3 linked regions of the Homo sapiens genome follow. The protein of the gene in region 2 purifies or fractionates together with the protein of the main gene of each other region. This does not show direct contact. Each region holds a gene or a part of one and is shown on either strand. Other genes may lie near its edges. The genes, in order: CTPS2, SUGP1 and DHX15.

Evidence for each region.
Region 1: the proteins of SUGP1 (region 2) and CTPS2 purify together in Homo sapiens (affinity purification with mass spectrometry; 2 studies listed by BioGRID and IntAct, with this or other methods). This does not show direct contact.
Region 3: the proteins of SUGP1 (region 2) and DHX15 purify together in Homo sapiens (affinity purification with a luminescence readout; 2 studies listed by BioGRID and IntAct, with this or other methods). This does not show direct contact.

What each region holds. Positions count from the first base shown.
Region 1 is NC_000023.11:16,702,192-16,710,161, forward strand, and holds part of CTPS2 (CTP synthase 2), read right to left. Parts: intron 7,650-7,970; exon of another isoform or gene 7,620-7,649; coding exon of another isoform or gene 7,533-7,619; intron 6,328-7,532; exon of another isoform or gene 6,228-6,327; intron 5,307-6,227; exon of another isoform or gene 5,218-5,306; intron 751-5,217; coding exon of another isoform or gene 712-750; coding exon 546-711; intron 1-545. UniProt on the Homo sapiens protein: Catalyzes the ATP-dependent amination of UTP to CTP with either L-glutamine or ammonia as the source of nitrogen. Constitutes the rate-limiting enzyme in the synthesis of cytosine nucleotides.
Region 2 is NC_000019.10:19,303,093-19,311,062, forward strand, and holds part of SUGP1 (SURP and G-patch domain-containing protein 1), read right to left. Parts: intron 7,109-7,970; coding exon 7,005-7,108; intron 2,985-7,004; coding exon 2,757-2,984; intron 756-2,756; coding exon 632-755; intron 357-631; coding exon 256-356; intron 1-255.
Region 3 is NC_000004.12:24,526,557-24,533,106, forward strand, and holds the end of DHX15 (ATP-dependent RNA helicase DHX15), read right to left. Parts: intron 6,499-6,550; coding exon 6,308-6,498; intron 3,215-6,307; coding exon 3,045-3,214; intron 1,486-3,044; coding exon 1,368-1,485; 3' UTR 919-1,367; downstream 1-918.

The sequences.
Region 1 (7,970 bases), on a different chromosome or scaffold from region 2:
CTACAGACACGTGCCACCACGCCCAGCTAATGTTTTGTATTTTTAGTAGAGACAGGGTTTCACTGTGTTAGCCAGGATGGTCTCGATCTTCTGACCTCGTGATCCACCTGCCTCGGCCTCCCAAAGTGCTGGGATTACAGGCATGAGCCACCGCACTGGGCCTTATAAAAAGTTTTTTAAAAATAGCATGTAAGGGCTAATGCCATTTTAAAAATAAATCAAATATACTCATACATCAAAATGTCACCATTAATAATAGTTACTCCAGGCAGTGGGAAATGTTAAGAGAAACACACTACCTTTATGTTAAAAATAAAACAGAATCTGTAGTGCAAAAGATACAATGTTTCCAAAAGGGATGATTAATTTGGAATGTCATCAGAGGTATGAACAATGTATCAATGACCATGAGAAAATTCACATATTCATAGCATACGATCTAGTCACTCTAAATCTGGAACTACATCCTAAAGAAATTACCCAAAATGGAAGAAAGAATGCAGTTGAGCCTAGTGCTATAAGGGGGAAGTGGTTCACTTTCGTACCGTGTTCATAAGGTGAAAAAGTGCCAGCATCGATGTTAATATAGGGGTCGATTTTTATGGCAGTAACTCGGAGTCCACATGATTTTAGAATCGTTCCAATGCTGCTGGCAATGATCCCTTTACCAATGCCTGAGATGACCCCACCCGTGACCAGGATGTACTTCATTGGCAGAATAGTGGCTGGGTGCCAACACCCAGATATAATCTGAAAGGCAATAAAATTATGGATAAGGAAAGAGAAATATTTAAAACTAGTAAAGCAGACAGTGTATTCAACCAGAATTAATTTTTTTTTTTTTTTTTTTTAGACATAGTCTTACTGTCACCCAGGCTGGAATGCAGTGAGTGGTGCAATCATGGCTCACTGTAACCTCTGCTCGCTGGGTTCAAGCGATCCTCCCACCTCAGCATCCTAGTAACTGGGACTATAGGTGAGCACCACCACGCCCTGCTAATTTTTGTGGGTTTTTTGTAGAGACGGAGTTTCACCATGTTGCCCACGCTGGTCTCCAACTCCTGAGCTCAAGCAATCCACCTGCCTCAGCCTCCCAAAGTGCTGGGATAACAGGCATGAGCCACCGCACCTAGCTCAGAATTTTTTTTTTTTTTTAAGAGACAGTGTCTCCCTATGTCACCCAGGCTGGAGTGCAGTGGCATGTTCATAGCTCACTGCAACCTTGAACTTCTGGGCTCAAGCAATCCTCTTGCCTCAGGCTCCAGAGTGGCTGGGACTACAGGCACGTGCCACGTCTCCCAGCTAATTCTTAAAACATTTTTGTAAAGACAGGTTCTTACTATGATGCCCTGGCTGGTCTCAAACTCCTGGGCTCAAGCAATCCTCTTGCCTTGGCCTCCCAAGATGCTGATTACAAAAGTGAGCCACCATGCTTCGTCTCACCAAAATTTCAAAAGCACACAGCAGTTTTCTGTCCAAACTAAATACTTGAATTTTTTGAAACAAAGTCTTATCTTCTAGGCTTTTTATTGTTGTCACTATACAGAAAGCTGTAGATACCTTCTGCAAGCAAAGTGCCTAGGTCTGTTGCCCTGGGTTTCCAAAGACCTCAACTCTATCATGCAACAAACTTCATCATGATAAACCAAATTTCTCTAGGATTCACAGGCATGCTAAAATGTTTAAGAGCTCAGACTCCAGTGTCAGACTGATCTGTACAAACTGTACCTGGGCAAGTTCTTTTTTTTTTTTTTTTCTTTTTTTTTAGACAGGGTCTCACTCTGTTGCCCAGGCTGGAGTATAGTGACACAATCTCGGCTCATTGCAACCTCCACCTCCCCGGTCCAAATGATTCTCATGCCTCAGCCTCCCAAGTAGCTGGGATTACGGGCATGCACCACCATGCTGGGCTAAGTTTTGTATTTTTAGTAGAGATGGGATTTCACCATGTTGGCCAGGCTGGTCTCGAACTCCTGGTCTCAAGTGACCACCCACCTCGGCCTCCCCAAGTGCTGGGATCACAGGCGTGAGCTACCACGCCCGGCCTTGGGCAAGTTATTTATCCTTTCTGTGCCTATTCCTTCATCTGTAAAGTGGAAAATATACAACAATCTCTAGGAATATAATTTGGTGTTAAAAAAAAATGGGCTACCAAGCCATGAAAAAACATGGAGGAATCTCAAGTGCATATTACCAAGTGAAAGAAGCCAATCTGAAAAACATACATACTGTATGACTTCAACTATATGACATTTTAGAAAAAGCAAAACTAGAGAGATAGTAAAAAGATCAGTGGTTGTCAGCGGGTAGGAGGGAGAGAGGGATGAATAGTCACAATACAAAGGAATTTTAGGGCAGTGAAACTATTCTGTATAATACTGTAATGATGGATACATGTCATTACACATTTATCCAAACCCACAGAATGGACAACAGGAAGAGCGAACCCTGATGTAAATAAACTACAGACTTTCCGCCGGGCACGGTGGCTCACACCTGTAATCCCAGCACTTTGGGAGGCTGAGGCGGGCAGATCACCTGAGGTCGGGAGGTCAAGACCAGCCTGACCAACATGGAGAAACCCCGTCTCTACTAAAAATACAAAATTAGCCAGGTGTGGTGGTGCATGCCTGTAATCTCAGCTACTCCGAAGGCTGAGGAAGAGAGAATCGCTTGAACCTGGGAGGCAGAGGTTGCAGTGAGCCGAGATCAGGCCATTGCACTCCAGCCTGGGCAATGAGAGCGAAACTCCGTCTCAAAAAAACAAAACAAAAACCTATGATCTTTAGGCAAAAATGATGCGTCAATGTAGGTTCACTGATTATAACAAATGTACCACTCTGCAGGTGCAGGATGTTAATAGTCAGGGAGGCTGGGCATAGCAGTGGGGGAGAGGGTGTATGGGAACTCTGTACTTTCCACTGAGTTTTGCTGTGAGCCTAAAATTACTCTAAAAAAAAAAGTCTTGCCAGGTGCAGTGGCTCACTGCACTCCAGCCTGGGCAACAGAGCGAGACTCTGTCTCAAAAAAATAAAAAATAAAAACTGTTTTTAAATAAGCAATATTAAAATAATTACAACTCATCTAGCTCACAGATGCTGACTGACTGAGTCCTGTTACACCAGTCAAAACTACAGCTTTTATTGGACAAGAGACTGATTTGAGTAACTTTCTCCTGATAAGACCACCAACCATGGACTGGCTCTGGCCAGTTTACAGAGGCTGTGGACTTGCGTGCCTTCATGTCCTGGAAAGATCTTTTGATGCATAGGGCTTAACTGAAATTCATTTAAATGTTAAGTCTCCATCCCCAAAGTGAACAGGGGTCATATGCTATTTTCATGTTTATTCAATACACATGAGTCAGGACCACCTTCATGAATATTCATAGCTCCTCCTGTAACCTGTTGAATATGTATATTTAGCCAACCCATTCAGCATAAAACTGAACCCTCCTTCAGAGTGCCTGCCTCTGGTTTTGGGAGGCCAAGGTAGGAGGGTCACTTGAGGCCAGAAGTTTGAGAACAGCCTGGGCAACATAGCGAGACCCTGTCTCTTTAAAACGTGTGCTTCCCAGCCTGTGGGATGGCCCCTTTGCAGGCTGTTACAGCCTGCAAAGAAATAAAGTAAACCAGGCGTGGTGGCTCACCCCTGTAATCCCAGCACTTTGGGAGGCCGAGGCAGGTGGATCACGAGGTCAGGAGTTAGAGACCAGCCTCACCAACATGGTGAAACCCTGTCTCTACTAAAAATACAAAAATTAGCTGGGTGTGGTGGTGCACACCTGTAATCCTGGCTACTAGGGAGGCTGAGGCAGGAGAATGGCTTGAACCCAGGAGGCGGAAGTTGCAGTGAGCCGAGATTGTGCCACTGCACTCCAGCCTGGGTGACAGAGCAAGACTCTGCCTCAAAAAAAAAAAAAGAAAGAAAGAAAAGAAAAGAAATAAAGTCACCAGGCACAGTGGCTCACGCCTATAATCCCAGCACTTTGGGCAGCCAATGCAGGCAGATCACTTAAGATCAGGAGTTCGAGACCAGCCTGGCCAACATGGTGAAACCCTGTCTCTACTAAAAATAAAAAATTAGCCAGGTGTGGTGGCAGGCACCTGTAATCCCAGCTACTTGCGGGGCTGAAGCACGAGAATCACTTGAACCTGGGAGGCAGAGGTTGCAGTGAGCCCAGATCGTGCCACTGCACTCCGGTCTGGGCAACAGAGTGAGACTCCGACTCGAAAGGTAAGAAAAATTTTGGCCAGGTGCAATGGCTCATGCCTGTAATCCCAGCACTTTGGAAGGCTGAGGCAGGCGGAACACCTGAGGTCAGGAGTTTGAGACCAGCCTGGCCAACATGATGAAACCCTGTCTCTACTAAAAAATACAAAAGTTAGGCTGGGCATAGTGGCTCACACCTGTAATCCCAGCACTTTGGGAGGCCAAGGCGGGTGGATCACCTGAGGTCAGCAGTTTAAGACCAGCCTGGCGAACATGGTGAAATCCCATCTCTACTAAAAATACAAAAATTAGCCGGGCGTGGTTGTGGGCACTTGTAATCCCAGGTACTCAGGAGGCTCAGGCAGGATAATTGCTTGAACCTGGGTGGAGGAGGTTGCAGTGAGCTGAGATCGCACCATTGCACTCCAGTCTGGGTGACAAGAGCGAAACTCTGTCTCAAAAAAAAAACAAACAAACAAACAAACAAAAATTAGCCGAGCATGGTAGTATGCGCCTGTAATCCCAGCTACTCGGGAGGCTGAGGCAGGAGAATCACTTGAACCTGGGAGGCGGAGGTTGCAGTGAGCTGAGATCACGCCACTGCACTCCAGCCTGGGCAACAGAGTGAGACTCTGTCTCAAAAAAAAAAAAAGAAAAGAAAATGTTTTAAAAAAGAAAGTCTCCTTTCTAAATTTATAGATCTTGTGATTTTTAAGTTGACAGTCATAAGGAAAATTTATTTGACTTTTCTGCTGCTTTCTGATTCAAACCCTTTTGTTTTATAGGAAGCCCAATAACTTGATTTTCTTTACTTTGAGTACTATTGTTTTTCCCTTGAGTGTGTACAGGGGCCTTCTGCTCTTGTAATTTCACCATGTATGTGAAAGTAGACCATAAACAGTATTATTTGTGTACTCATGGCAGGCAAATGGGCAACTGAGTAAGACCACAATATAAAATTACAGTTACAGAAAAAGAAAAATAATGCCAGGCATGGTGGCTCACATCTGTAATCCCAACACTTTGGAAGGCTGAGGTGGGAGGATCTCTTGAGGTCAGAAGTTCGACACCAACCTGGTCAACATAGTGAGACTCCCTCTCTACAAAAGAAAAATAAAACATTAGCCAGGTGTGGTGGCACACACCTGTAGTCCCAGCTACTGGGGAGGCTGAGGCAGGAGGATTGCTTGAGCCCAGGAGGTCAAGGCTGCAGTTAGCCAAGTGATTGTGCCACTGCACTCCAGCCTGGGTGACAAAGCAAGATCCTGTCTCAAAAATAAAAAGAGAGACCAGGTGCGGTGGCTCATGCCTGTAATCTCAGCACTTTGGGAGGCCAAGGCGGGCGGATCACCTGAGGTCAGGAGTTCAAGACCATCCTGGTCAGCGTGGCGAAACAATGTCTCTACTAAAAATATAAAAAGTAGCCGGGCGTGGTGGCGTGTGCCTGTGGTCCCAGCTACATGAGCTGCATGGGAGGCTGAGGCAGGAGAATCACTTGAAGCCGGGAGGCGGAGGTTGCAGTGAGCTGAGATCACACCACTGCATTCCAGCCTGGACAATAGGGTGAGACTCGGTACCAAAAAAGAAAAAATAAAAAGAGAGAGAGAGAGAGACAGTAACTAACAAAAGGTAATAACTATAAATTTCACTTTCATTTGTAATTTCACAATTTTTTTACATACTTGGAAATTCAGCACAAATGCATTCGGGTAGGAACAATTTCAGTTACCCACTTCTTATTTGTCCTCCTCAAAGGAATGCCCATTCTGATTTTGTGGTTTCCTCTGCTTACCTTTCAAAACAAACTATCTTAACTAAAGTTATCACACGTCAGAGCTGTGAATTCCATTTGAACTAGCTGACCATGGTCAGGCTGAGTAAACTGAAGCTATTCAAAATATACATGTTCCATCCCAGATGGCCTCCCTAAGTCCCTGGGCCTACCTTTCTCTACACAACACAGTTGATCACATTCAATGCCATCGCACATCTTCACTAGTCACCAGGGCACCCACCTATCTGACCTATGTTTATAGCTTAAAACATTGTCAATCCAAACCCAGAGCCAAGATCACACCATTGCACTCCAGTCTGGACAACAGAGTGAGACTCCGTCTGAAATAAATAAATAAATAAATTATATATATACATATATTACATATATAATGTTTATTTGAACATCTATTACATGCTTGACATATTTCCAAGTCCTAGGAATATGGAGATAAACAAAAAGACAAGGTCTATGTTCCACTGGACTTCACCTTTCCTGCAGGATTAAGGGGCAAATAAACTGTGCTTTAATTATACCTTATTCTGGCACTGTTATACTGTTCAAATGACTCTCTTTGTAAAAGTTACCGAAATGGAAAAATGCCGTAGAGGTATGGTGAAGAAAACTGGCATACATTCGTACAAGTCACATTATGCCTAATAAATTTTTGTATAAGAAAATGCTTCTTTGGGAGGCTGAGGCAGGCGGATCACCTGAGGTCAGGAGTTCGAGACCAGCCTGGCCAACATGGTGAAACCCTGTCTCTACTAAAAATACAAAAATTAGCCAGGCGTGGTGGCAGGCGCCTGTAATCCCAGCTACTTGGGAGGCTGAGGCAGGAGAATCGCTTGAACCCGGGAGGCAGAGGTTGTAGTGAACCCAGATAGCACCATTGCACTCCAGCCTGGGGGACAAGAGCGAGACTTCGTCTCAAAAAAAAAAGTTAAAAAAAAAGAAAATGCTTATGTGGCCGGGCACGGTGGCTCACGCCTGTAATCCCAGCACTTTGGGAGGCCAAGACGGGCGGATTGCCTGAGCTCAGGAGTTCGAGACCAGCCTGGGCAACATGGGGAAACCCCATCTCTACTAAAATACAAAAAATCAGCCAGGTGTGGTGGCGTGCACCTGTAATCCCGGCTACTCAGGAGGCTGAGGCACGAGAATTGCTTGAACCTGGGAGGTGGAGGTTGCAGTGAGCCAAGATTGTGCCAGTGCCCTCCAACCTGGGCAACAAAGTAAAACCGTGTCTCAAAAAAAAAAAAAAAGGAAGAAAGAAAATGCTTATGTTACCTGAAAAAGAGAGCAGACTATAAAATTGAATATATTATTGACTATGTTTTTTTAAACTAAGATCTAAATTTTATTTGTCACCACTAAGATTTCCATCTTATGGCCGGGTGCAATGGCTCACGCCTGTAATCCCAACACTTTGGGAGGCCAAGGCGGGCGGATCACAAGGTCAAGAAATCAAGACCATCCTGGCCAACATGGTTAAACCTTGTCTCTACTAAAAATACAAAAATTAGCCAGGCGTGGTGGCACCCACCTGTAGTCTCAGGTACTCGGGAGGCTGAGGCAGGAGAATCACTTGAACCCAGGAGGTGAAGGTTGCAATGAGCCAAGATCGTGCCATTGCACTCTACCCTGGTGACAGAGTGAGACTCTGTCTCCAAAAAAAAAAAAAAAAAAAAAAAAACAGATTTCTATCTTAATTTGGTCAAAGATACACCATGTTATGTCTTAATATATTTAGGTGATTAGGTTGTATGTGTTGGGGCTCAGAAAACAAAACCCAAAAATGAAGGCCTCAGAAGCAAAGTTTCTCTCTGACCTTCTCCTGCCCTCCTGTCTCTCACCCCTCATACTCCCCCAAGGCAAGTCATAGAAACTAGAACCCTTTTCCCCCCAAAGCCAGCCATAAAGCCAAAAAATATGACTCTAACCTTCCTCTCAACCACCTTTCTATACAACAGCTGGCCATAAA
Region 2 (7,970 bases):
CCTCGACCTCCATGAGCTCCCGTCTACCCCACAATGTGGCCTGACACTCAGGCTTCACCAGGTCCTTGGAGCACTGAGGGGGAAGGTGGTGTCAGACCCATTCCCAGAGTGACCCCAGATGCCTGGGAGAATACAGGCCTCAACCACCGGTGCCACACAGTGCCACTCCAGCACCTCCAGGAACCCCGATTCCGCATTGGGGCACGGTATGTCCACAGGCCTCCCCAGAATCTCCCACCCGCTCCGTCCACCTACCTTTCTGAGAGGCTGCCTGCGACTTCTGTGCTTCCTTTCTTATCTCAGCCACCTTCTTCCTGTAGTAGAGGAATTCCCTGCTATTCTTATCGTGCAAAAATCTGGAGAGGAGGAAGTTTGCAGAAGAGAGGGGAAAATAAGTATCTGTGACAGGCATATCCCTGCAGCTTCTATCGTGCAAAAAAAGGCAGGCTGGCGAGCAGGGACCCGAAAGCAAGTCTCCGTGCCACATGGGAGCCACTTGTCACTTCTGGTGAGAATCAGAAAACGCTTGGAACAGCATCCGGCCCACACTAGCAAGCACCCAGCCCCACACGTGCGACTGTGCAGCAAACGCATTCAACAGCACAGCCTTCCCTTCCCCGGAGATACTCACGCAAATGCTGGGTTATCCTTGTAGTCCTCCATAGCTACTTTTTCTAACTCGGGGCCTCCTTCTGCCACAAAGCGGGCCAATTTCTCTATCACTTTCCGAGTCTCGGCTCCCTCTGGGGGTGAAACTTTAAGGAGGCTGTCAGTACTGGGGTTCAACTCACACACCCCACAGTCAATAGGCACACTCTCTCTATGGACCACAACGACAGAGGGGGTGGGGGGAGAAGAGTGTGAGATGCAGGAGGCTGTCGGGCGTCCCGAGTCCAGGCACAAAACACCATGACGAGGGGGGAGTCGGTCTCACTGTCTTGGTGAGACACACTAGGTGGGAGAGAAGTGTGTGAGGCTGTGGTGAGCTCCAGGCTGGAAGCTAGCAGAAAATATATCCAGCTTCCCCTGGTTTTGGTGGGGGAAATGCTTAATTCTTTTCTTTCTTTACCAGTTTTCAGCATAATACATCGGTTCCCTTTCATCCTTCAAAGATGACACGTTCTTTTTTAAAAAATACCATTATGAGCTCTGATTTAAACACACTGGGTGGGTTTCGATCCATGGCAACTAGTGTCATCATAGAAGCTCTGCGGCCGGTGGAACCTCTTCAAGCTGGCTCCTGAGGGCTCTGGACATGGCCCCAGGAGTCTCTGATGGCCTCCTTGCCATCTGCCAGGACAGGCGCTCCAAGATCATCTCATACACTTCCTGCCCAGACCCAGAGCCAGCCACTTCTCCAAGAAGTCGGTTTCCATGAGAAACTGCATCTCCAGACCAGCATCTGGGAGCTAGGGATGCTCAATGCCACAGGCTTAATCATTATTTCGGGGCCTTTTCAGTGAACAGAGCTATAAAGATATATTTTTATATACGGATTAGCCTCCCCACTGAGCCATGTGGAACTTGCTTTTGCATTTTTCCCTTGGCCTGTTTCTGAGGCTGTGAGTTTGTCAGCTACTACACAGACTGCAGTCCTTGTAGGAGATGCACAAGAGAAATTTCTCGCTGCCAGCAAGTGCCTGGCAACTGGGCAACATGCCAGACCTGTGGCTAATCTTATTCCCCTTGTTGCTTGGGCTGCTGGGAATGGGGGAGAGGTGGGGAGTGTGTAGCCCAACGAGGGCCCCTGTGAGGTCCCGAGAGCATTCCGTGACTGTCTTTCACCCTAGGTCGCCCTCCTGCCATGGGCCCAGCAACAATCCTGACCTGGTTGCTGTTTACAGGAACAGGTGCGTTTCTGAGGCCATGCAGACAGTGGGTCATAATGGGCTTCAAGGGCCCCGAGATGGCCAATACCCCTTGTAATGCAGCAGTTCCCAACAGGGTACCCTTGGAGCTGCTGGGGCACCCCTTTAAGGAAAGGACACACGCCAGCTCCATTCTAATGGCCCGGGGGCCAAGCTGGCCTCTGATCCGCTCGGACACACAGCCAGAAGCAAGGGATCTCAAGGCTGTCATGGCACAACTCCACAGTCGCTTCAGTCTGTGCTGTCAGGGTGATGTGACCTCACCGGCTAGCCCTTCACACAGTTCAGGTGTCACAGGGACTCGTCCTGAATGTGGACAGGGCTGGACTTGCTGGCAATGCTGTCACCACAGCCACCCCCCTTTGCCCTCCTACACTGGGCGGTCTGGACAAGCTCACCCGTGACCAGTGACCGTCCTTTCCCAGGGATAGAAGAGAGCACCCTCCAACCTGCAGCTCATACCTCTGGCCTAAACTCAGGGGACAGGTAACCCATGGTGAGGGGCAGTGCTTTGGGGCCTCAAGGGCTCAGCGGAAGAGCCTTAGAAGCTCCTCCTAGAAGGGATGTGAGGATGCCCTTTTGGAGCAAATGCGAGAAGGGCGTGCGCCCCTGCCTTGGCTGGGATGAGCCGCTGTGTGAGTGGAAGATGGATCCCGCTGCTCCCAAGATGAAGCCCACGCGCTGATGCCCAGCAACACCCCAGCCCCGCCCCTCACCCTCCTTTGCTCTCCTCACCTCAGAGGGCCTGAGGCTCAGCTCAGAGGTCTGGTGGCTGCAACTCAGCCGAAAGCACCCATGCCCCTGGCAGCACTTGCCCTGCCCACCACAGATCCCACCTGCTAGAGCACGGGCACTGGTGGTGGGGGAGCAGCAGCTCCCACAACTTACCTTTGATCTCCAGCCACTGCTCATAGTCCTCCTCCTCGTCCTCGTCAGGGGACTGGAAGACACTCGGGCGGTGCGCCACGGGCAGCTGCTTGGCGTGGGAGTAGCTCTTCACAGGGCCCGGCAGGCTGGCCAGCCCCAGGCCTGTCCGCCTGCTGATGAGCAGGGACCTCTTCCCAGCGCTGGGGGTGGGTGTGCTGGGAGGGGCGCTGGGCGCACTGGTCGGGGCGTCTGGTATAGAAGGAAGGATATGCGCACTCGGGATCTGCAGGGCACCTCTCCCGGCTTCCGACCTAACCTAGGTGCTGTGGGCCCCGGGGGAGCTGGGTCCTTGACTTCCAGAACTCAGGGGCTCAGAGGAGGCCACCCTGATTTTACAGATGGGGACAGTGAGGCAAAGAGCAAAAGGACTCGTTGTGGTCCCCCAGCCAGAAAAGCAGCAGCCTGGGGCTCTGAAGTGGGCCGCTGTGGCTGGAGGCATCTCGGTCGCGCTGCACCCACAGACTGGGGACAGTTCTGGGGACAGAACGTCAGTTCTGCCGGGTAAGACCCGAGTCCCCGAATCCCAGTTTACAACCATTCCCTTGGAGGTCTGTGGCCAGGCTGACTGGCCAGGGGCCAGCCTACTGGGTGTTCTCAGCCTGACACCTGATGGGGAAGGGACTCAAACCAGCCTTCCTCATTCTAGGATGAATTTGGCCTTGGGTTAACTTTTCTTAGCTGTTCCCTGGGAAACCTGACAGAGGTCGAAGACCAGCTGTCTCACCAGCAACAATGGGCTCTGGTCGGTAAACCCCAAAATCAGAGACATGGGCAGAAGCTCCACGGGTGACGATTTACCCACCTGGCATATCACACTGCACACCTGTAGGCGACCAACCTACAGACAGGGGTCCCATTCCTTGCACAGGCATTGCTGCCCACTGGAGAAGGCCGGGAATCCCCTGGGGCACTGACAAGGGGGCCAGGTGAGGACCTGGAGACCAGCCATTCTAGCCCACACTTTGGTGTCCAGAGGACCTACAGTGCAGAAGCACCCACAGCAAGGCAGGGGATGGGGCAAGGCTGGTGTGTGACAGCTTCAGGAAGAGCCCTGAGTCTGGTGGGGAGCAGCATCATGAAATTGGCCAGCTCACCACCCTGAGAGCAGGACTAGGGCCCCCGGATCATGAAAGATGCTGGCTCTGCACTTGGGGACCTCATCTTTTTTTTTTTAGTGACAGGGTCTTGCTCTATCACCCAGGCTGAAGTGCAGTGGTGCAATCATGGTTCACTGCAGCCTCTACCTCCTGAACTCCTGGGCTCAAGCAATCCTCCCAGCTCAGCCTCCAGAGTAGCTGGGACTACAGGTGCACGACACCATGTCTGGCTAATTTTATTTTTATTTTTTGCAGAGATGGGTTCTTGCTAGGCTGTCCAGGCTGGTCTCACACTCTTAGATTCAAGCGATCCTCCCAGCTCAGCCTCTCAAAGGGATTACAGACATGAGCCACCATGCCTGGCAGGGGCTTCATCTTTTTAAGCCTTAGCTTCCTAAATGGAAAGTGTGGAAATGGAGGTAACCAGCTGCTTACAGAACTCAATGAGATTTAGTTGGACCATCTAGACCTAAAAAAAATAACGTCGAGTAAGAGAAAAAAGCTTGGAACAAAACGCACACTATGTCGTCATCTGCATAAAGGGTCAAACATCTGAAACTACGGCACACACTGCTTGACTGAGAGGACAACAGGGGTTGTCAGACACACAATTTCTCGACAGTTACTTCCTGTAAGAAAGGGGGATGGGAGGACTTCAACCTCTGGTATTTTTCTTTTTTTTTTTTCTTTTTGAGACTTAGTCTCGCTCTGTTGCCCAGGCTGGAGTGCAGTGGCGTGAGCTCAGCTCACGTGAGCAGAGCTGGTTGCCTCCCAGGTTCGTGCAATCCTCCCACCTCAGCCTCCCAAGTAGCTGGGATTATAGGGGTGTGCCACCATGCCCAGCTAATTTTTGTATTTTTAGTAGAGACGGGGTTTTACCACATTGGCCAGGCTGGTCTCGAACTCCTGACTTGAGGAGGTCCACCCGCCTCGGCCTCCCAAAGTGCTGGAATTACAGGCGTGAGCCACTGTGCCCAGTGAGTATTTTTCATGATTAACAAAGATCAGAAGTATCAAAGGCAAAATGTTACATCTATGAATTCTTTTTTGTTTTCTTTTTTTGAGATGGAGTCTTGCTCTGTCTCCTAGGCTAGAGTACAGTGACGTGATCTCCACTCACTGCTACCTCCGCCTCCCAGGCCCAAAAGTGATCCACCCATCTCAGCCCCCCCATTAGTTGGGGTTAAAGTTATGCATCACCATGCCTGGCTAATTATTTGTATTTTTTTTGTAGAGAGGAGACTTAGCCATGTTGCCCAGGCTGGTCTTGAATTCCCGAGCTCAAGCGATCCTGTCCCCTTCGGCCTCCCAAAGTGCTGAGATTACAGGCATAAGCCACCGCACCCAGCCGACATCTATGAATTCTGAGTGAAGAGAATACGACGTGTGTTATCAGACGTCTACCAAAGGGAAACAGAGGTAGAGAGAGGTGTCCCTCCAGAGGATTCAGTGAGAGCACAGACGTGGTCTGCTTGCACGGAGCAAGGGACATGGCAGGCACTGAGTCCACATTCCCTGGCACACGGGGTGGTACCCGATGAACACTAGTGCCCTGGTGGTCATTGTTGGGTGCCCCCAGCTGCGTGCCCACCCGGCACCTCAGCCGCAGCAGGCCCCAGAACCTATTGTTCTCTGATGCAGCTCAGGTGTCTCGGGCCAGCCCGGTGTCTCTGAAAACCCTGTATGCAGAAGACCTGCTCACCCCTGCTGGTGGGTTCAAGCTGACCCAGCTTGGGGATGCCTCCCATCTCCCAAAGTGGTCTCACAAGTGTGGGGAAGGCTTCATCATGGCTCCACCTGCCCCAGACTGAAATCTGACTTATCTGTCTCTGCTCCTACAGGGTAAGCACATTGAGTGCAGGGTCTACATTTGCCCCCTTGGTAATTTTTTTTTTTTTTGAGACGAAGTCTCGCTCTTGTCCCCCAGGCTGGAGTGCAATGGCATGATCTTGGCTCACCTCAACCTCCACCTCCTGGGTTCAACCGATTCCCCTGCCTCAGCCTCCCGAGTAGCTGGGATTACAGGCGCCTGCCACCACGCCCGGCTAATTTTTGTATTTTTAGTAGAGACAGGGTTTCACCATGTTGGTCAGGCTGATCTCGAACTCCTGACCTCAGGTGATCCGCCTGTCTCGGCCTCCCAAAGTGCTGGGATTACAGGCGTGAGCCACTGCGCCCAGCCTGCCCCCTTGGTATTAATTTACATATTTATTACTTGGGCTGGGTACAGTGGCTCCTGCCTGTAATGTCAACACTTTGGAAGGCTGAGACAGGTGGATTGCTTGAGCTTAGGAGTCCAAGACCAGCGTGACCAACATGGCGAAATCACAACTCTACAAAAAATAAAAAAATTAGCCAGGTGTGGTGGCATGCCCCTGTAGCCCCAGCTACAGGGAGGCTGAGGTGGAAGGTTTGCTTGAGCCCCGGAGGTTGAGGCTGCAGTGTGCTATGATTGCACTACTGCATTCTAGCCTGAGCAAGAGTGAGGCCCTCTCAAAAAAACAAAAATTACTGGCCGGGCGGAGTGGCTCACGCCTATTACCCCAGCACTTTGGATGGCCAAGGCGGGCAGATCACGAGGTCAGGAGATCAAGATCATCCTGGTAACACAATGAAACCCAGTCCCTACTAAAAAGATACAAAAGGCCGGGCACAGTGGCTCACGCCTGTAATCCCAGCACTTTGGGAGGCTGAGGTGGGCGGATCACAAGGTCAGGAGATCGAGACCATCCTGGATAACATGATGAAACCCCATCTCTACTAAAAATATTTAAAAAATTAGCCGGGCGTGGTGGCGGGCGTCTGTAGTCCCAGGTACTCAGGAGGCTGAGGCAGGAGAATGGGGTGAACCCGGGAGGCGGAGCTTGCAGTGAGCCGAGATCGCGCCACCGCACTCCAGCCTGGGCCACAGAGCGAGACTCCGTCTCAAAAAAAAAATTATTTATGTATTATTTATTTATTTATGCCTTTGGTGCACGCATGGGTGGAATGAGGGCGATCTATGATTACCGGTGAGCAGGAGTCTGAGGTGGGACCCATCACTTCCCATGTGCCCAGCAACCCCAGGGGGAGATGCAAGGACAGCACAAGGAAAGGGGAGGCCTACACTCACCTGTGCTGGTCTGTGCCTTCTGCAACTTCAGAAACTGCTGCAAGAAGCTACCATCGTTGGCAAACTTGTTGGAAATGCAGGAAGAGTTGTGTGCATTTGTGATTCTAGAACCAAGACAGAGGACAGAGAGGGTGAGCTGGCTAGAGATGGAGTGAGGGCACCAGAGGACGAGGATGAGGATGAGGCCATCACCTCGTCCATCATGGCCCCTAACTCACCCCAGCACTCTCACCTACTGGGACCCCAAACTGGCCCCCAGAGATTTCAAGAGACTACTGCGAAGTGCGCACAGCAGGCTTCAGTACGGTAAGCTGGGAACAATCTTGTTCTGATAAAAGCAATACTCCATGTATTATCTCTGCCTGAATATTAACCCTCCAGGTCCAAATGGCCCTCCAACAAGATGGCTCCTGCTCTCTCTGCACAGCACCTGTCCTCCCTTGCTAGTTGATTATCTGGGTTGTTACTGACTCATGTCTGTCCTCCTGCTAGACCTTAGAGTTTTCCAAGGCAGGGCCTACATGTCTCTCTCTCTCTGTCTCTCTCCCTCTCTATCTATCTATCCGAAACAGAGTTTTACTCTGTCGCCCAGGCTGGAGTGCAGTGGGGCAATCTTGGCTCACTGCAACCTCCTCCACCCAGGCTCAAGAGATTGTCATGTCTCAGCCTCCTGAGCAGCTGGGATTACAAGCATGTGCCACCACACCTGGCTAATTTTTGTATTTTTGTAGAGATGGGGTTTCGCTATGTTGGCTGGGCTGTTCTCGAACTTCTAACCTCAAGCCATCCTCCCACCTCATCCTCCCAAGGTGTTGGGATTACAGGTGTGAGCCACCACACCTGACCTATTTATTTAAGAGACAGGGTCTTGCTCTGCTGCCCTGGCTAAAGTGCAGAGTGCAATGGTGCGATAACAGGGACTGCAGGCATGTGCCACTCTGCCTGGCTAATTTTTTAATTTTTTTT
Region 3 (6,550 bases), on a different chromosome or scaffold from region 2:
TGAAGTATTATTCCACCATGTAAATTATTCCATGGGAACAAAATGAGGCACTTATAGAAGGCACATTAACTTTTTCAAGCCACTAGGCATCATTTAGTAACACCTACCTACACTAAAAAGCATACTAGTTAGCTTCAAAGAGTTAACTTGCCCAACTCCCTAAGTCACATGCTAGTTACCAAGTATATTTAAATGCCAGGCACACACCTATATATTTCCTTTAACACTTAAAAACTTATAAAGGTAGGAGGGGAAGAAGAGGGAAGTCCAGACTAATGAGTACAGTATTTAGTCTTCATATGAAAATAACTGATTAAAAAACATTTTATGGGCCACATAAAACACCTCAATTTTCATTCCAAAATGAATGTAGACAAGTTTTCAACTTGTCTACTGCCTGTCATAGAAAATGGAAGGTCAAATGTACATTTTAACACACTATACAAATTATTTTGTATACTGCATAAAACTTCCATCACTAAGAATTTTGTTAAACTGAGATCTAAAATATGCTTTCCTCTTACCTAATACTAATAAACGTGTTTGAGAAGCTAGAAGTATAATAAAAACATCTGACAAAAATGTAGTTAATAAATTATGAGCCTTATGAAAGGAACTCTAAGAAAGACAAGTAGAGAGCTCTCCTTTCATTATTCTCTCTTTTGGGGTCCAGTTTCAAATGATCACTACACACATTTTACCCCTTTTAGATCGATCACATCCTGATTAACCTAACAAAGCGCTAAGCCATGCTCTTAAAAATACTGCTTTAACAGCTACTTTTCCTAAGGAGTACTCCTGGTAGAAAGATACTAAATATGTAGTAACAGTATAATTATAATAATAAAAAAGCTCCACACTTGAAAAACAACTATACTTAGAGACTAGAACAAAGATACCAAAGGGCTTTGGCCAAAATTAGTATAAATAGACTTTATTGAAGTCAGTGCCTCTGTACTGAGACAGAAGATTGTGTCTACATAAGCACAAGTTGTAACATTTCACAACTTCTAAAAGGAATGTCAACAATTACAACGATCATGCATACCATGGTCGATAATCACATTTTAGAAGCATTTTCAACCATTTCTAAAGAAATGCTTATAACATTGTTATATATAGAACTACTTTCAATAAACTGCAAAACATTGATCGACTTTTCCAGTATGAGCTACAGTGTCAACACAAAAGGGAGGCATAAATGTTTAATTTATGAAATCAGAATGGAATATTTACTGTAAAGAAAAATTAAAAAGCTTTCAAATAAAGGCCATTATCGAACCAACGTGAAGAGCACAACTCGAACTTTTGAGTTCATTCATCTTTTAAAGCTGTCCTCTCAATAACTTCAGTTCTAAGCACTGAATTCAGTACTGTGAATATTCCTTGGATTGAAGTTTGGCAATGATGCGGTCCAACTGTCTCTTTGCTTCACACTGTGGGAAATTGCTCATGTCATAATATTGAGGGGCAATTTTCACCAACCTGTTTAGAAGTGGGCAGAAAAATTTCCAAATTAACATTTAATTGAAGTACTGGAGTTGTTAATAGGATAGGCATTATTCATTAATATACTGATGAACCAAGGCAAATCTATGAATTCAAGTCTCAGAAAAATACAAATAACTAATCCTTACAAATAGCACTTTTAGAAATGTGTTAAGTATTTTATTTAGTAAGATGTGAATTTTCTGATGTTGGACTTACCATAAACTTAATAACAAACCCCTCAAGATACATTAATGTAAAGATAACAGATAAAGTCACTGATTTCTTTACTCTGGCACACTATTAATTTGCCACTCCAAGGATATAGTAATATATAACAGGTTCTGTGTAGGAAACATCGTGGTATTCAAATGATTGGATCTTTTCATTTTCAATGTTTTAATAACTGTAACTCTATACCCCCAAAATACACTTGACTGAAATCTTTTATAAAGTTTAGCTATATAATTTTTTTCTCAACAAAGCGTTTAAGATAAAATGGTAATGTCCTACACAATTTAAGTGTCAAAAGTCCCAAATCCGTATAAGAAAGCAGCTGCACAATATAAAGCGGTGACAGCACCTAGAATATGTGCCTTCAGTCCCACTACTCTTGGCTGACATTTCCTGTCATAGGTTATAGAATAGATTCTGGCATAAATAAAACAAAAAACCATGAAGGTGAGGGTTATTTTGCTTAAAATAAAACAATCCGTTCTTACTCTACATTTTGTAGAAGCTAGTATGTTAAAACACAAAGAGCTATCATTTTTATGCCTGCACAGTTCCTAAAAACCAATATATAAATAATAAATAGTTGAGGGCTAATTGTAATGGGACAAAAAAAATGTTAAAAAACAAAACAAAACAAAAAAAAACAGATTTCTGCAAGCAAGAAACAGTACTGACTTGAGAATCACAACAGCAAGAGAATGGCTCCAAAGAAACTCTAAAAATTAAAAAAATTAAAAAAAAACCCTTTTTTAAAAGTATGTCTGAGAGACAGGGTCTCACTGTCACCCAGGCTGGAGTACAGTGGCATGATCATAGCTCACTGCAACCTCAAACTCCTGGGCTCAAGCAATCCTCCTGCCCAGCTTCCCCAGTAGCTGGGACTATAGACGTGCAGCACCACCATGCCCAGCTAATTTTTGTACACACCTATATATCTTTTAGTAGAGATGGATTCTGGCTATATTGCACAGGCTGGTCTTGAACCCCTGGCTTCAAGTGATCCTCCCATCCTGGCCTCCCAGAGTCCTGGGATTACAGGTGTGAGCCACCATGCCCAGCCCCTGAAGAAACTTTTCATGCTATTCAAATGTAACTTCACATTTGGCTTCAAATCCTGCCCATAAATATCAACAATCCCACTGTCCACTTAACAAAGGAAGGGTGTGAAAGATTAATCACACCATCCAGTCAATTCCCTCATACCTACACACTGAAATATAAATTCTCAATGAGTGAATGCAAGGCCATGACTCTAGCAACAGTCAGGTTCCATTTTGAGCAAAGTACTAACAAAAAACTGTTAGAACAAAAGGTGTACTTACCATTCTGGCTTGATATCTGTACATGTCCGGATGTAATTCTTTGTTGTTAGAACAAACTCATTATAAAGCACCCATTCAGGTTTGTGGTCAAGAACAGTAGAGGGATGCAACTGAACCACCTGGTTATCTTTCACAGTTAAGTAATGCCCTGTTCGTTCTAAATGTGCCACCTGAAACCAAAACCCAGTATATTATTAATACAATGCTTCTGACTTGCTAGTTGTAAAGCTACCTACATAATTAGGAAGAGGCAGGCCTCCCTTTTACTTTTCATTCTATGGCTATACTTATTTATCACTGTCTGATAAAAGCAGAGATAAGCAAACTGCTGCCTGTGGGCCAAATCCAACTCATAGCCTCTATTTGTAAGGTCTGTGAATCCAAAATGGTTTATTTATCTTTAATTAGAAAGAAAAAATATCATACAAAAAACATTCCGTGAAGCATGAGTAGCATGTAAAATTCAAACTTCAGTATCCATAAGGAAAGTTTTATTAGAACACAGGCATGCCCATTTGTCTATACCTATTATGCTCCAAGAGCAGGCAGTGTTAGGTAGTTTTGACAAGGACTTCATGGGTCCACAGAGCCCAACATTTACTATCTGATCTTTCCTGCCTGAGACCATCTAGAGCAGGCTCTTCAGCACTGGGCGCCAACTATGAGCAGACAATTACCAGAACATTCATGTCTAAGGTAGAAAACTAAAGCCAGGTGCAGTAATCCCAGCACTTTGGGAGGCTGAGACAGGCAGATCACCTGAGGTCAGGAGTTCGAGACCAGCCTGGCCAACACGGTGAAACCTCATCTCTACTAAAAGTACAAAAATTAGACAAGCGTGGTGGCGGGTGTCTGTATCCCAGCTACTCAGGAGGCTGAGGCAGGAGAATTGCCTGAACCCAGGAGGCGGAGGTTGCAGTGAGCTGAGATCAAGTCACTGCACTCCAGCCTGGGCGACAGACCGAGAGGCTCCATTTCAAAAAAGAAAATAAAGAAATAGAATAAAAAATAAGGTAGAAAACTAAAGAGGGCAAAGAGGAAAAGAAAAAGGTAACCTACAAAGACAGGAAAATAAAAATGGGAAAAAAAAAAGAGCTTGCACGTGCTTCCCTCTCATTTCTTTTTTTGGTAACACCTTGACTGGTGATACTCATCAAAATGGACAGTTCTCCCTTTCCAATTCTAATATTCTGTGCTTAAAGAATGAGCATGAATAATAGAAAAGAAACTCAATTTCATTCGAAATATTTACTAAACACCTATTAGGTGTCAGGTACTATAATGCATGCTGTTTCTAATAAATTTTTTGTTTGTTTTTAAAAAGAGATAGGGTTTTCCTATGTTGCCTGGGCTGGCTTCAACGCTCCTTGCTCTCCACTCAACTTCTCTAGTAGCTAGGACTACAAGCACACTCTGTGGTGCCTAGCTGTTTGTAACAAATTTTAATCTACATAATTAAGAAGTATAATGCTTGAATATAGTTTCATCAATTTTTTTTTTTTTTTTGAGACGGAGTCTCGCTCTGTCGCCCAGGCTGGAGTGCAGTGGCGCTATCTCGGCTCACTGCAAGCTCTGCCTCCCAGGTTTACGCCGTTCTCCTGCCTCAGCCTCCCGAGTAGCTGGGACTACAGGCACCCGCCACCGCGCCCGGCTAATTTTTTGTATTTTTAGTAGAGACGGGGTTTCACCATGTTAGCCAGGATGGTCTCGATCTCTTGACCTCGTGATCCACCCGCCTCGGCCTCCCAAAGTGCTGGGATTACAGGCGTGAGCCACAGCGCCCGGCCAGTTTTTTTCTGAAATATAAAAAGCAAATTTAAGAACATGTCAACCCAGGCCTGGTGGCTCACGTCTGTAATCTCAGCACTTTGGGAGGTCGAGGTAGGAGGATCATTTGAAGCCAGAAGTTCAAGATCAGCCTGGGCAACGTGGCGAGGCCCTCTCTCTACACACACAAAAAGGCAAAAATTAGCTAGGCATAGTGGTGCGTGCCTGTAGTCCCAGGAACTCAGGAGTCTGAGGTGGGAGGATCACCAGAGCCCAGGGAGGTAAAAGCTGCAGTGAGCCGTGATTGCACCACTGCACTCCAGCCTGGGAGTGAGACATTGCCTCCCTCACCCCATCCCCTCCCCCTAAAAAAGAACAGAACATGTCAAAGAGAAGCCAGTACAACATATCAAATATTAAGAATATAGTTAAGAGTTTCAAGAAAGAATGCTCATACCTATCATTCACCAAACTCTAATAAGCCTATTATATAATAAGATGCCACAATAAACACTGTGTTACTTAGATTCAAATACAGACATCTCACCAATCTCCTTTGATTTTTGATTCTGAAACTGAGTGTCCTCAGGCTCATATTCTAGCTACTGAGCCCATCTGGCCTTAAGGGTAAGCCACATCGTGCTTAAAAGACACAGCCAAAGAGAGAATGAACAAACAGAAAAGAGATAGAAGAGACTTATCCCAAATCAGGTGATTTGTTTTCAATTTTATCACCACAAAATTTTCTTGCATTTTTCTCAAAGTTTCTCTTATTTTATAAACACCTTAAAATAACTGTTCACAGTATTTACTTGACAAGTTTTACTTCTGTTCTTATAGCCGTTAACACAGCATACTTAAACTAAATAAAACCTTTTAAATTATGTTTCATCTTTATTGCTACTCAACAGACGTTTTTGGCTTTTGCAGTACGCAAGGGTCTTGGTCATAATTACCAATGATCACTCTGTAGAGGACTGTAAATGAAATCCACGTATTTGAATATTTGAATTTGGAGGTGCTTAGTTTTTAGATAAAGACTAAAGCCAACTGTATGTACTTTTGGATCCGCTCAATTGCTTCCTTTTAGTACTCTGTTATGACAATGTATTTCCAATTAAGCCCTAGATTCAGAGAAACTTTAATGCACTGATCAATATTCACATTCCTGAAGAAACAGGTGCCTAATCACATCTGAAAGTAGCCAAAGTTTCCATTTTGTATAACAAAGGCTCTATTAATAAAATAATTCTAAAAACGATTCCTGTATAACTAGACTACCTTAGCCATTTAGTACATTAATTTGTTACTCATTAAATACTTAAAATTTCTTAGTATATTAATTCACTCAAAGAAACTGGATGTACCAACATTTAAGATAAATTTTTATGAGCATGCACAAACTCACTTTTGCTTTTGAGTGGATTCAAAGGACTGTTAATAGAAATCAGTGTCATATGAATACTTAGTTATTCATTCCCATATTATCTACATACCTGCATAAAATACCCAGTAACCAAAGCTTTTCTTATATTAATATAATAGTCCCTGCTTGTAAAGTCAGTACTTCGACGAGGCAAATTAAATCTGTCCATAATTCGAGATAGCTGCTGGCGTACATTGTCTGCGGACATCAGGGACCTGTAGTTAATGAAGTTGTCATAACACCACTGAACCGATTCATGATCTAAAAAGGTAGAAGGCGGGGAGAAAAGAAGGCACCATGAATCACCCACACA